Linked DNA regions of Homo sapiens: all the other regions are linked to region 3. The links come from fine-mapping of genetic effects on gene expression. A gene starts in region 3. Each other region holds a variant in brackets. All regions are shown on one strand. Distances are from middle to middle.

Region 1 (2,761 bases), 360 kb after region 3:
CACCAGGCTCTAAGCGGCGATCTGTGCTAAGAGGTCAGGACCCAGCCGAAGTCCTCGGCGTTGACAGGCAGCTGGGGGGACATGATCCATGGACAAGGCCATCCCGGCCGTGGGAGACCCCAGTCCCGAAGTCTTGCCTGCAGGAGTACTGGGGTCCCCCTGGGGCCCTCTTTACTGTCACGTCATCTCTAGGAAACCTATCTCTGAGTTTTGGGACCAGGTCGGTTTGGGTTTGAATTCTGCCTCTTCTTGCTCACTGTGTGACCAAGTGACAAACTCCTTCTGAACCTGTGTTCTCCCACTGTACCAGGGCTGTTCTGTGGTCCCCGTGAGTGCCAAGCATACAGTAGGGGCTCAATAAATCCTTGTTTCTTTTGATGAATGAGAAAATGAGGCAGCCAGTGGGTAATTCCTGTATAAATGCACTTTGGTAGATAAGATGTTACAAGCTTGGGGGGCTTGGGGTTTTTTTTGTTTTGTTTTTTTGAGATGGAGTCCTGCCCTGTCGCCCAGGCTGGAGTGCAGTCGTGCAATCTTGGCTCACTGCAACCTCTGCCTCCCGGGTTCAAGTGATTCTCCTGCCTCAGCCTCCCGAGTAGCTGGGATTACAGGTGCCTGCCACCACACCCGGCTAATTTTTGTATTTTTAGTAGAGACAGGGTTTCACCATGTTGGCCAGGCTGGTCTTGAACTCCTGACCTCAGGTGATCTACCCACCTCGGCCTCCCAAAGTGTTGGGGTTACAGGTGTGAGCCACTGCGCCTGGCCGGGCTTGATTTTTATTCTCTTTGGAAGTGGGGTCCTTCATTCCTCCCCCACCTCCCCAATCTCTTGCTCCTCTTTCTTCCCCCATCCTGTGCCCACTGTCTCCCTTTAGCCACCCACCATGGGTCTGCTCCTTGTCAACTCTGTCCTGACTGGGTCATTGACAAGATCCAGGGCATGAAATTCGGGAAACTGGAAGGGGGGTTCCTGTACCAGGAAGGGAGAGACATTACAAACTTTCCCTGACATGAATATGTGGGCTGAGGGCAGGGGCTGAGGAAGCACTGGAAGTTTCTAGGATACAACAAAGCATGAAGAGAAAAAATAGTGTAAGGTCCTGACCGTGCACAGTGGATCATGCCTATAATCCCAGCACTTTAAGAGACCAAGGTGGGAGGATTGCTTGAGCCAGAAGGTCGAGGCTGCAGTGAGCCATGATTGTACCACTGCACTCCAG[C/T]TTGGGCGACGGAGTGAGACCCTGTCTCAAAAAATAAAAATAAGTAAATCTCCTCTTCCTCATTCTTCTGACAGTCTGAAGAGGATCAATGGTTTGGATTGAATGCATCATAATTTTGTAGTCAGGTTCCTAATGGTGGACATTTATATTGTTCTCAATATGTTTCTGCTAGAAGTAAGTATCCACATCATCACTCACAAGTTCAAGTATAACTGGAGGATGATATCAGAAGTTGTTTGTTCAGGCCGGGCACGGCAGCTCACACCTGTAATACCAGCACTTTGGAAGGCTGAGGTGGGCGAATCACGAGGTCAGGAGATCGAGATCATCCTGGCTAACATGGTGAAACCCCGTCTCTACTAAAAATACAAAAAATTAGCTGGGCGTGGTGGCAGGCACCTGTAGTCCCAGCTACTCAGGAGGCTGAGGCAGGAGAATGGCCTAACCTGGGATGCGGAGCTTGCAGTGAGCTGAGATAGCGCCACTGCACTCCAGCCTGGGCGACAGAGCGAGACTCCGTCTCAAAAAAAAAAAAAAAAAAAGAAGCTGTTTGTTCAAAGGGTCAAAACTCCCCATTTACCATTTTTTTTTTTTTTTTTTTTTTTTGAGACAGAGTTTTGCTCCTATTGCCCAGGCTGGAGTGCAATGTCACGGTCTCGGCTCACCTCAACCTCTGCTTCCCGGGTTCGAGCGATTCTTCTGCCTAAGCCTCTAAAGTAGCTGGGATTACAGGCGCCTGCCACTGCGCCCAACTAATTTTTCTGTTTTTAGCAGAGATGGGGTTTTACCATGTTGGCCAGGTTGGTCTCGAACTCCTGACCTCAGGTGATCCACCTGCCTTGGCCTCCTACGGTGCTAGTATTACAGGCATGAGCCACTGTGCCCAGACTAAAACTCGCCGTTTTCATAGTGATTTCCACATTTTCTTAGAGATGGGGCCAATTTATACTCCACAGGTAATAGATATACTCACCTGGCTGGGCATGGTGGCTCACGGCTGTAATCCCAACAGTTTGGGAGGCCGAGGCGGGTGGATCACCTGAGGTCAGGAGTTCGAGACTAGCCTGGCCAACATGGCAAAACCCCATCTCTACCAAAAATACAAAAATTAGCCCAGCATGGTGGCAGGCACCTGTAATCCCAACTACTCGGGAGGTTGAGGCAGGAGAATCACTTGAACTGAGGAGGCGGAGGTTACAGTGAGGTGAGACTGCACCACTGCACTCCAGCCTGGGCAACAGAGCAAGACCCCTTCTCAAAAAAAAAAAAAAGTACTCACCTGTTCCACACATCCTCATTAGCCTCATGTCTTGTCACTTTTTATTTTTGTCAATCTGATAGGTGAAAAATGGTATCTCAATGTGGTTGTTGCTTGCGTTTCTATTTGTGAGGTTGAACATCTCCAACCACCACCACCAACTTTGACCTTAGGTGCAGGCGGTCGAGCAAATCGTAAATCATTCACAGTTCAAGCACATTATCATCTTTGATATATGCAAGGATCTTTTTTTTTTTTTTAGATGGAGATCACTCTATCAC
Region 2 (2,761 bases), 32 kb after region 3:
TTTTTTTTTTTAATTTGAGACGGAGTCTTGCTCTGTCACCCAGGCTGGAGTGCAATGGCTCGATCTTGGCTCACCACAACCTCTGCCTCCCGGGGTCAAGCAGTTCTCCTGCCTCAGCTGCCCAAGTAGCTGGGATTACAGGAGTCCGCCACCACGCCCGGCTAATTTTTGTATTTTTAGTAGAGATGGGGTTTCACCACGTTGGCCAGGCTGGTCTCAAACTCCCGACCTCAGGTGATATGCCCGCCTTGGCCTTCCAAAGTGCTGGTATTACAGGCGTGAGCCACTGCTCCCGGCCTACTGTTTTAACACTTGTACTGGTGTCATGTTATTTTCATTCTGAGAAATTGGAAACCCTTTCTATTGCTATTAATAAAGTTCGTGTTTATTTTCTGGTAGTCAAAAAACAAAAACAAAACAAAAAAACAAAAATTAGCTGGGTGGGGTGGCGGGTGCCTGTAATCCCAGCTACTTGTGAGGGTGAGGCAGGAGAATCACTTGAACCTGAGAGGCAGAGGTTGCAGTGAGCCAAGATTGTGCCACTGCACTCCAGCCTGGGCAATAGAGTGAGACTGCGTCTCAAAAAAATTAAAAAGAAAAAGAAAATTGTTTATGGTAGATAGAAGCCATCAGTGAGTGCTGTTTTTCTTTTTCTTTTTCTTTTTCTTTTTTTGAGACGGAATCTCACTCTGTCGCCCATGCTGGAGTACAGTGGCGCGATCTCGGCTCACTGTAACCTTCACCTCCTGGGTTCAAACGATTCTCCTGCCTCAGCCTCCTGAGTAGCTGGGACTACAGGTGCATGCCACCACGCCTGGCTAATTTTTTGTATTTTTAGTAAAGATGGGGTTTTACCGTGTTAGCCATGATAATCCTGATCTCCTGACTTCGTGGCCTCCCAAAGTGCTGGGATTACAGGCAGGAGCCATCATGCCCGGCCAAGTGCTGTTTTTCTTAGCTGTGGCTCTTAAATGTTTGCAACTCCTCACAGGGGCTTGTTTTTCCAGATGTGCTGCCTGGCACATCTGGAAAAATATATATTACAGCACTATATATTACAGTGTTTTGCTGTCTTCCTTTTGCCCTGTTACCACATGCAAGGACAGTAGCACAGAAAAACAAGCCTAAACCGCATATCATTTTTACTCAGCATTAGCAGCTCATATAATTGTTTGTTTATTTTTTGAGACAGGGTCTTGCTCTGTCTCAAAGAGACAGGCTGGAGTACAGTGGCATGATCATGGCTCAATGCATTCTTGACTTCCCAGGTTCAGGTGATCCTCCCACCTCAGCCTCTCAAGTAGCTGAGACTACAGATAGAAGCCACCATATCC[G/A]GCTAATTTTTGTACTTTTTATAGATGGGGGTCTTGCTGTGTTGCCCAGGCTGGTCTGGGACTCCTGGGCTTAAGTGATCCTCCCGTCTCAGCCCCTCAAAGTGCTAGGATTACAGGCATAAGCCACCACATGCTCAGCCTATTTATTTTTTAAATGTACAGAACAGTAGGCATTTTTTTAAAAATCACATACTAGTTTATTTCAGAACTGCAGTGTTTTAATTAACAAACATGTAAACATATGGAAATGAAATTAATTTGCATATTTGATTGTGGTTCCAGCATCTTCATTTCTCACGCGTCCGTGTGAAGAGACCACCAAACAGGCTTTCTGTGAGCAACATGGCTGTTTATTTCACCTGGGTGCAGGTGGGCTGAGTCCAAAAAGAGAGTCAGCAAAGGGTGGTGGGATTATCATTAGTTCTTATAGGTTTTGGGATAGGCGGTGAAGTTAGGAGTAATGTGTTTTTTGGGCAGGGGGTGGATCTCACAAAGTACATTCTCAAGGGTGGAAAGAATTACAAAGAACCTTCTTAAGGGTGGGGGAGATTACAAAGTACATTGATCAGTTAGGGTGGGGCAGAAACAAATTACAATGGTGGAATGTCATCAGTTAAGGCTATTTTCACTTCTTTTGTGGATCTTCAGTGGCTTCAGGCCATCTGGATGTATACGTGCAGGTCACAAGGGATATGATGGCTTAGCTTGGGCTCAGAGGCCTGACACACTTCAGTTGTGACTGGTTGTGATGTATTTTAATTAGAGATGACGGAGATTTGCCTAGTGTGATAATCCCTCAGTTGGGTGAATATCTAGTGTGTGGCAGCCACTATTTCAGAAACTGATGAGTGTTTTTTAAGGGTTATTCTTTTTAAAGTCCTGTGGATCTGAGAAACTTCCATGACTTAAGATAAGGATTTATCTAGAATGTTACTTTTTTTTTTTGAGATGGAGTCTCACACTGTCACCCAGGCTGGAGTATAGTGGCGCAATCTGGACTCACCTCAACCTCTGCCTCCCGGGTTCAAGAGATTCTCCTGCCTCAGCCCCCCAAGTAGCTGGAATTACAGGTGTGCACTACCACGCCCAGCTAATTTTATATTTTTAATAGAGATGGGGTTTCACCATGTTGGCCAGGCTGGTCTGCCTCAGAGAACAGAACAAAGCCTGTTCTAGCGCCTGTCCTAGAATGTTACTTAAATGAACTAACCTGTGGGATGTGGCCTAAAAGGTAAAGCCAGGCAGTTCTTAATACAAACAGGCTGGGCTCCAGAAGTCTCCTTGTTTAGAGTTAAGGAGTAAACTCAGTGCCCATGATGCCCAGGAAACCATAAGATAAAACAGCCCTTGGGCCAGGAGGTGGCTCGCGCCTGTAATCCCAGCCCTTTGGGAGGCCAAGGGGGTGATCACGAGGTCAGGAGCTCGAG
Region 3 (2,761 bases):
TTTGAATTTCCTCCCCAGCAGCAATGGAGAGAACGTGGGCCCCACCCTGGAAGGGCTCCCAGCCAGCAGGCTGAGGACCTTTTACTGAGCCCACATCTGGAGACTGTCCTCATAGCAAATAGGCTCCAGGAGGTTCTGTGACTTTGGAGAAGAGATTCATGTCCAGGCCATTACTTTTTTTTTTTTTTTTTTTTTTTGAGACCTGGTCTCCGTCAACCAGGCTGCAGTGCAGTGGTGCAATCATGGCTCACTGCAGCCTCAAATTCCCAGGCCCAAGTGATCCTCCCACTTCAGCCTCTCAAGTCCCAAATAGCTGGGACCACAGGCGTGCACCACCACGGGGTCTCACTATGTTGCCCAAGCTGGTCTCAAACTCCCGTGCTCAAGTGATCCTCCCGCCTCTGCCGCCCAAAGTGCTAGGATTACAGGCATGAGCCACCGCCCAGTTCCTTTTCTTGTGCACTAGGAGCCTTCGATGCTGTGTCCTAAGGACTAGAAACAAAGATGTGAGGATTCGCTCTGATTTGGGGTACACTGCAGGGGAGTCTCTCAGTAAACATCCTTCCTTCATTCGGTAACCACGTGGTAGCATTTTCTATGCCCAGAACTGTAATCTGCGAAGATGAATAAACAAGCGAGGTCACTCTTCAGCTGGACCTTGAAAGGTGACTGGAATTGATTTCTGCAGTGGAGAAAAGCGCTGCGTTCTGACCTCCTCGTTGCCATCAACCACGCACGCCTGCGCCCCGCCTTAGCCAGGTGAACGGGGCGTGGAAAGCTCTAGAGGAAGAGCCAGGGGCCCCAGTGGCCCACCTGATGGGGCTGAGGATGCAGGGAGCATTAGGGGGACTGAGCAGGGGTCTGGGGCTTGGGGCTTCTGGAAATGAATGGGGGCTGTCGATCAAGCTATAAGAGGTGTGGGGTTCTGAGGAGGAGGGGGTGGCTTGGAGGAAGAGTTGGGGTGCTCTGGGGAGTGAGGGTCTCTGAGGACCGAGGGCTTTGAGGAGAAGGGGGCCCTGAGGAGGAGCAGGAACTCTGAGGAGATGCGAGTGGGGCTGAAGGAGGCGTGCACCGCGCGAGATGTGAGGGATGGGGGCCTCTGGCTGGAGCGGAGCCAGCGCTGCCCTCTCTCAAGGGGAAGGAGGGCGCTTATGAGAAGTGCCGTTGCCTCGGCAACCCCAAACCCAGTCCAAGCCCGGAGAGGGGGAAGTTCGGGGCGAGTCCCGGGGGCGGTGCGTGGCGCCGGTTGGCTGACGGAGATGAAGGGGCGTGTCTGTAGGCGGTGCAATACACGGGTTGGCTGGCGATAGCGGCGGTGGGCGTGGCTTAGGCGCGAGCGAGAGCGGGCGCGGCGCTCAGGCAGCGGCGGTTGGCTGCGGCGCCAGTGGTAGTGCTCCAGGCTCGACGGCACCCTCACAGCGCCCGCCCGGCCCTGCCGCTCATGGCCGCCCCGCCGCGCCCCGCGCCATCGCCCCCCGCCCCGCGGCGCCTCGACACGAGCGACGTCCTGCAGCAGATCATGGCCATCACCGACCAGAGCCTGGACGAGGCACAGGCCAGGTGCTGCCCGCGGGCTCGGCAGGGGCCACGCAGGGTCGTGGCAGTGAGGTTGGCGGGCTGAGGGGACGGGGCGTGGAGGCCAGACTGACGAGGGGCGCTTGAGGAGGGCTGGAGGGGGGTCCCGAGGACGAAGGGATGTATGGGGTTCAAACGGAACGGGCTGGATAGGCCTTATGGGGCCGAGCAGTGGCGTGAAGGATTTTCAGCAGCTCATCTTGGGGCGAGAAGGTTGGGTTTAGGGGTTTAGGGAGTAGGGCTGAGAAATGGGCACGTACGGGACTTTTGACGAGTGAATGACTAAATGGGTACGTTAATGGGACTCCTGCGGCTGGAAGTTTTTTTGTTGTTGTTTGACACGGTCTTGCTCTGTCGCCCAGGCTGGAGTGCAGTGGCGTGATCATGGCTCACTGCAGCATCCACCTCCCCGGCTCAGTTGATTCTCCTGCCTCAGCCTCCCGAGTAGCTGGGACCACAGGCGCACGTGCAACCACGCCCGGCTGATTTTTTTGTATATTTTGTAGAGACAGGGGTCTCGCTATAGTTGCTTAAACTCCTGGGTTCAAGCACTCATTCCGTCTCGGCCTCCCTAAGTGCTGGGATTACAGGCGCGAGCCACCGAGCCCGGCCTGTGGGTGGGAAGTTTCCAGGGCAGATGATGGAGAGTGAGTGGCTGGGAATGGGACTCAGGAATGTCTGCAGGAGACTGAAGAACTGAACTGGGGTAACTTGGTGTGGGAACCATCGAGAACTTTTGGGAAAAGGGTTAGTAGAGGAGTGGGTGGAGATGGAAGACCTATTTTCTTTTTAATGAATTCAGCAAATTTTTATTGAATCCTTACAATAACTGGATAGGGAACCGGGTGCTGACATAGTCCCTGCTCTCGAGTACATGATTTAGGGGAGGGAATGTAAATAGCAAAAAATAAGGACTGGGTGGAGTGGCTCACATCTCTAATCACAGCACTTTAGGAGGCTGAGGCAGGAGGATTGCTTGAGCTCAGGAGTTCGAGACCAACCTGGACAATGTAGTAAGACCTCGTCTCTACTAAAAATAAAATTAAAAAATTAGTTAGGTGTGATGATGCAAGCCTGTAGTCCCAGCTACTTAGGAGGCTGAGGCTGCAGTGAGCCGAATCAAGCCATTGCACTCCAGCCTGGGTGACAGAGCTAGACCCTGTCTCAAACAAAAGCAAAAAAGTAT

Evidence for each region. PIP is the estimated chance that this variant, and not a neighbour inherited with it, causes the effect.
Region 1: its variant is fine-mapped to the expression of PBX4 in whole blood (TOPMed, PIP above 0.99).
Region 2: its variant is fine-mapped to the expression of PBX4 in whole blood (TOPMed, PIP 0.95).

What each region holds. Positions count from the first base shown.
Region 1 is chr19:19,253,270-19,256,030 of GRCh38, reverse strand. It overlaps HAPLN4 (hyaluronan and proteoglycan link protein 4), which reads left to right. Exons shown (of 5, transcript NM_023002.3): 5 at 1-1,275. Among named protein-coding and RNA genes, the nearest start is that of HAPLN4, 8.2 kb to the left of the region's middle. The variant C/T (reference allele first, on the strand shown) is at 1,223.
Region 2 is chr19:19,584,843-19,587,603 of GRCh38, reverse strand. The region is part of intron 2 of PBX4 (PBX homeobox 4); the gene reads left to right. Among named protein-coding and RNA genes, the nearest start is that of PBX4, 32 kb to the left of the region's middle. The variant G/A (reference allele first, on the strand shown) is at 1,335.
Region 3 is chr19:19,617,310-19,620,070 of GRCh38, reverse strand. PBX4 (PBX homeobox 4) reads left to right here and starts at 1,384. Exons shown (of 8, transcript NM_025245.3): 1 at 1,384-1,560. The coding sequence starts at 1,442. RefSeq lists a silencer at 1,393-1,602.